Linked DNA regions of Homo sapiens: region 2 is linked to region 1. Evidence: fine-mapped expression QTL. A gene starts in region 1. The other region holds a variant in brackets. All regions are shown on one strand. Distances are from middle to middle.

The links. PIP is the estimated chance that this variant, and not a neighbour inherited with it, causes the effect.
Region 2: its variant is fine-mapped to the expression of SHISA8 in whole blood (INTERVAL, PIP above 0.99).

Annotation. Positions count from the first base shown.
Region 1 is chr22:41,913,397-41,916,297 of GRCh38, forward strand. SHISA8 (shisa family member 8) reads right to left here and starts at 1,678. Exons shown (of 4, transcript NM_001207020.3): 1 at 742-1,678. The coding sequence starts at 1,271. RefSeq lists silencers at 877-986, 1,057-1,136, 1,277-1,356, 1,397-1,466, 1,537-1,616 and 1 more and an enhancer at 979-1,904.
Region 2 is chr22:41,887,995-41,890,895 of GRCh38, forward strand. All of the region lies in intron 11 of SREBF2 (sterol regulatory element binding transcription factor 2), which reads left to right. Among named protein-coding and RNA genes, the nearest start is that of MIR33A, 11 kb to the right of the region's middle. The variant TA/T (reference allele first, on the strand shown) is at 1,707.

The sequences.
Region 1 (2,901 bases):
GTGGCATGTGGGTGGGAGTTCCAGGGTCAGGACACATAGAGTCCTAGAGTCCTCGTTCCAACCGAGGAAGGGGACCTGGACCCTGTAGTGCCCACTTCACACCAAGCTCAGAATGCAACAAGCACCTGTCCTGGCCTCAGCAACACACGACTGTGTTCCAGAGTCCCCTTTCTACGCAGAGGGAGCCCTGACCTTCACCTGGGAGCTGTGGCATGGGGTGAGTGGGGGGAGGCCTTTGAAACCCAAGGAGGGAAGGGCAGCCTTGAGTCACAGCTGTGGGGGCAGGGGAGAGGCAGGAGGTGGAAGAGGGGAGGGAGGAGTGGGGAGAAGCAGGAGATGGGCACCCAGAGAACCAAGCGCCCCTTCCTTTCCCGTGCCCAAGACGCCCGGTCACCTCCCTGGCCAGCGGCGCCCCTTACCCTGGACAGTGACCCGGTGCCCTCTGTGCAAGGCTACCTGTCCCCCTCCCAGCCCGCCCCCACCCCCCTGCCCTCCAGAGGAGACTCGAGCAGGGAAAGGCGGTGCGGCGCCCAGCACGGGCAGAAGGTCAAAGGGAGTCAGGGCGGTGTCAGGTGTCTCCCTGATGAAGTGTTGGGGGGGCGGCGGGGGGAGAAGGAGACAGGAAAACCCAGAGAAGGGGCCTGCTGGGAGAACCAGCGCTTCGAGAGCGGCGGGAAGGATCAGCGGGCAGGGAGAGCAGTCCGAGGAGCAGGCGGGGGTCCCTGGGCGGCGCGTGCTCACCTGGTCACTGTGCGCCGCGCGCGCGGGCTGTGCGCCCTCTCCAGTCCCAGGCGCGCCCCGATGCCGGCCAGCACCAGCAGCGCTGCGACGCCGCACACAGCGTAGACGGCCGTATGGCTGCGCTCGCGGCCGGGGTCCCGGGGCGCTGCGGTGTCGCGGGCGCGGGCGGGCGGCCGGCCTGTCTGGACCCAGGCCGGCGTGTCGTAGTTGGAACAGCGGCTCTGGTCGAGGCGCCGCGGCCCGTCGTGGCAGCAGAAGCGGTAGCCGCACGTGCCGCAGCAGAAGCTGTAGGCTCCGGAGCTGCAGTTGAAGGGCGGGTCCCACTGGCCCATCACGTCGTAGTAGCCGCGGCAGCGGTCGCCCCCCTCCGGGGCTGTCGTGCCGGGCGCCGCGGGACCCTGCGCCTCGGGGGCTCCCGCGCGGCCCGACGGCGGCCGCGCCAGCAGCAACGCGAGCCGAAGCGCGAGCGCGAGCCGGAGGCCGGGAGGACGGCGGCCGCCGAGCAGTCCCCGCGCCCCGGCCCGCGCCATCGGGCCCGCGCCTCCCGCTACTGCGCCCGGTGCATGGCCGGGCGCCGCGGCTCCCTCCGGCTCGGCTCCTCCGCTCCCGCAGGGATCGCGCTGGCTCCCGGCGCACGCCGCCTCGGCCGTCGGCCTCCTCTGGGGACCCCAGCCCCGAGTGGGCTGGGTCTGGAGCTCCGAGGCCGCACCTCCGGTGGGCGCGTCCTCCGCCCGGGCTCACCTCGGACCCGAGCTGCCCGGTCCGCGTCCTGAGATCTTCCCCGGGCCGGGCGGCGGGTCCTCGCCTGCGCGCGGCCCCCGGCTTCTCCCCGGCCCGGCAGGTGTGCGGGTCTTGGCCCTAGCGGAGGCCGCGCCGGGGCCGCGGGCCGCCCGACTGCGCTACCTTCCCGCCGCGCTCTCAGTACAGCCCGCGCTCTGGCTCCGGCTCCGGCTCCGGCTCCCGCTCGGGCTCGGCGCGGGCTCGGGCGGGCGGGGGAGGGAGAGAGGAGGGAGGGCGGAAGGGAGGCAGAGCCGGGGGAGGAGCGCGGCTGCCGCGAGGGGCGAGAGGAGGCAGCAGGCCCCGCGGAGCCGGGAGGCCCCACAGGGAACCCCCCTCCACAAAGACTGCCCCGAAACATTCATCGGAACTGGGCGCTCGAAGGGGATCAGTTCTAGGGCCCGCGACTAGAGCGTCCCTGTCTTACAGGTGCGGGGACCTGTACCTTACAGGCGCGGAGGTCAAAGCAGCCCGGAATTGCCCCGGGACGGGCAGGGCCACCCTCTCACCTCCTTCCCGTCCCCTCTGTCCGTTCTGATCATAACATAAGGAGGGCCCCTTCCCCTCTCGGCGCCTCGATTTTCCCACCTGTCAAATGGGAAGGACTTCCCCTGGCAGCGCCGCTTCAGAGGGCCAAGGATTTACCCCACGGCGCGAGCCCAGTTCCAGAACCCCTCGAACGCTGGGCTGGGGTCCAGGGATGTCCCCATCCCTGCGTCGATGGGCACGGCTTGGCTGACGCACTTCCGCGATCTGCTCCCTCCCCAGGTGTGAGGAGAGGGGGACTGGGCTCGCCCCTGCCCTGGAAAAGGAAAGCCTGGAAAAGGAAGACCTCCGCCCTGCGCCCACCCGCAGGTCCTTTCACAAACCGAGGGGTAGGGTGTGGGGGCCCTAAGGAGCCCGGACCCGGTCCCAGCACGGCCCAGTGGTGTTTTCGGGGTTGAGTTGAACTGGAGAAGGTCCTGGTGCTTGGCTTCTCCCTGCCTCAGTATCTCATCTTAACATCAAAGACTCTTCCTGGAGGGCAGACTCATAATCTGCCCCTTCCAGGAGATAGGGGTCGATATGGAACCTCCCTCTGTCCAGACGGAAACAGCAGGAGGGCAAGGACTGGGCGTGCAATTCACCCAGTGTGCAGCTCAGGCCTCTGTCGGCATTTGCTGAATGAATAAATGAATGAAAGGACTCCAGCGCCTAGTTTCTGTGAGATGAAACATTTGGGGCTCCCTAGGGTCCCTCCTGGTCCCCTTTCCATCCGTCCTTCTCTCAGCAACTGGGACCAGCTTATGAAAGTGGAGAAGGTGGGGGAGAAGAAGAGGAAGGATTTACATTTTAAGGAGGATCAAGTCTGTTGCCTGACATGAGGGGCTGACAGACTAATTT
Region 2 (2,901 bases), 25 kb before region 1:
TCTGTCGTCTCATTGATTAGAGGAATTCTTTATTCTGGAGATTACCCCTTTATTGGATATATGCTTTTCAGATACCTTCTCCCACTCTGGGGCTTGCCTGTTCTGTCTTAATGGTGTCTAGTGAGAGCACAAGCTCTTAATTTCAGTGAAATCCAGATTATTAGTCTTTTCCTTTACAGTTAGACATTTTAAGTCCTGTTCAATAAATCTTTGTCCTACCTCAAAGTCATGAAGATATTCTCCTATGTTGTCTGCTAGACGCTTTATTTTTTACTCTTTACACATATGTACCTAATCCACCTGGAATTAATTTTTATAAGAGTTGGAGGTAGGAGTGCAAGATCTGTTTTTCTCCATAAGGATATCTACCTGACGCAGAACCTGTTATTTTAAAAACTATCCTTCCCCTGCTGCACCAAGTGGCACCTTTTTTTCATAAATCAAGGATCCGTGTACCGTGGGTCTGCCTCCAGATCTAGTCTGTTCCACTGCACCATCACCACCCAACCCTAACGGCTGAGTTTTCTCTTACGTCTTGATGTCTGGAAGTGTTGGTCTTCCAGATTTAGTGACTAACGATGAATCTTGGGTGTTTCTTTGTAGCCTCTTCATTCTACAGAGGTACTTGATGCTGCTGATGGACATTTGGGTTGTTTCCAGTATTTGCCGTTATAAACAGTGCTTTAGGGAACATTTTTGTCCATTGTCTTCATGCACCTCCATAAGAGTTTCCTCAGACCAAATCTGTAGAGATGGTGATGCTGTGTCAAAGGATATAAATATTTGAAACTTAATAGTATTACCAAATTTGCATATTCAGTAAGATGGAAAAAGGAGAACTGTCATCTTTAAAGTAACTGCTCTTCTCTGTTTACTTCTCTTGAGAGAGGATAAAGAGACTCAGACAGTACTTTCTTATAAAGGAAGAAGCTTTGAATTTGGTGAGATATATTTAGCTACAAATGAGCCAGTTGTTGGGGGCAAGTGGAGGGCTGGCCTCTGTGAAAATGGTTTAGACTAGAGGTTCCCAAACTTGCTCAACTCATGACTCAAGATTCCCAAACATTCTCTACTCACTATGTCTCAGTAAATTTTTCATGGCATCCCTTAGCCAAAAGAAATACCTAACGGTTCTGGTTTTCGTTTTTTGAAACAGTGTCTTGCTCTGTTGCCCAGGCTGGAGTGCAGTGGTGCAATCACGGCACACTCTAGCCTCAACCTCTCTGGGCTCAAGTGATCATCCCACCTCACCCTCCCGAGTAGCTGGGACTGCAGGTATACACCACCACACCGAGCTTATTTTTGTATTTTTTGTAAAGTCAGGGTTTTGCTATGTTGCTCAGGCTGGTCTCGAACTCCTGGGCTTAAGCGATCTGCCCACCTCAGCCTCTCAAAGTGCTGGGATTATAGGCATGCACCACCGCGCCTGGCCTCTGTTAAGTAGTTAAGTTTGAACATCCTAATAGGTATTTAAATTGTCTTAACAGCTTAGTGGTCATTTGAAAAAATCATATGTCAAGTTGAAAGAAGAAATAATATTTTTTGCTAGGAGTGGTAGCACACACCTGTGGTCCCAGCTCCTCAGGAGACTGAGGTAGGAGAATCTCCTGAAACCACGAGTTTGAGGCTGCAGTTAGCTATGGTCACACCTGTGAATAGAGCCACTCCACTCCAGCCTGGACAACATAGTGAGACCATGTCTCTAT[TA/T]AAAAAAAAAAAAAAGAGGTTGGGCACGGTGGCTCATACCTGTAATCCCAGCACTTAAGGAGGCTGAGGCGGGTGGATCACCTAAGGTCAGGAGTTTGAGACCAGCCTGGCCAACATGATGAAACTCCGTGTCTACTAAAAATACAAAAATTAGCCAGGGATCGTAGCACGCACCTGTAATCCCAGCTACTCGGAAGGCTGAGACAGAATCACTTGAACCCAGGAGTCAGAGGTTGCCGTGAGCCGAGATTGTGCCACTGCACTCTGGGTGACAGAGCAAGACTCTGTCTCAAAAGAAAGAAAGAGAGAGAATATTTTGGATTCTTAATAATTTCTTAGAAATCATGGTTATTAAGAATCCAAAATATTCTTTTATTTATTTATTTATTTTTTGAGATACAGCCTCACTCTGTTGCCCAGGCTGGAGTGGAATGGCTCTTCACAAGCATGGTGTCACTGTTTCTTACCAATACATGAACCTGTCAAGCACTGCACACCTCAAGCTTTGGAATCAGACTAGCAACCATCACTCTCTCTCTTTTCCACATTGATTTTCACACAGTACTATGACAGATATCACATCTCCAAAGGAAGCTAGTGTGGTCTCAATGCTGAGGCTGCATGCTCTCCCCATCTAGTCACTTACAGTGCCCAGCTGATGTTGAGCATCACTGTTTTCCTCGAAAGTTTAAAATAGCCAGTGGCTCCCTTGATCACTTGCTGTGGCACCTCAGACTGCCTTGGCACACGATTTGAGAGCCATGGGGTTAGACCGATGTTAGGGGACACAACCTGGGGTTGGGACTGGCCCAGGGATACTGAGTGGCTCTCAGGATCTAAACAGTTGTGGGGTTCTTGCCACAGCCTCTTTCACATCAGGCAATTAGCAGATGAGTTACAGGGGGAGGCTCCTAGGCCCCAGTTGGGGAAGATTCTGGTGTCTATAAAATTTAGGAAAACTTAAAAAAAAATTTTTTTTTTTTTGGCTTGGGATTACAAGCCAAGCCACCAGCGTGGCCAAGATGGTGAAACCCTGTCTCTACTAAAAATATAAAAATTAGCTGGGTGCGGTGGCGGGTGCCTATAATCCCAGCTACTTGGGAGGCTGAGGCAGGAGAATTGCTAGAACCCAGGAGGCGGAGGTTGCAGTGAGCCAAGATCACACCACTGCACTCCAGCCTGGGTGACAGAGCA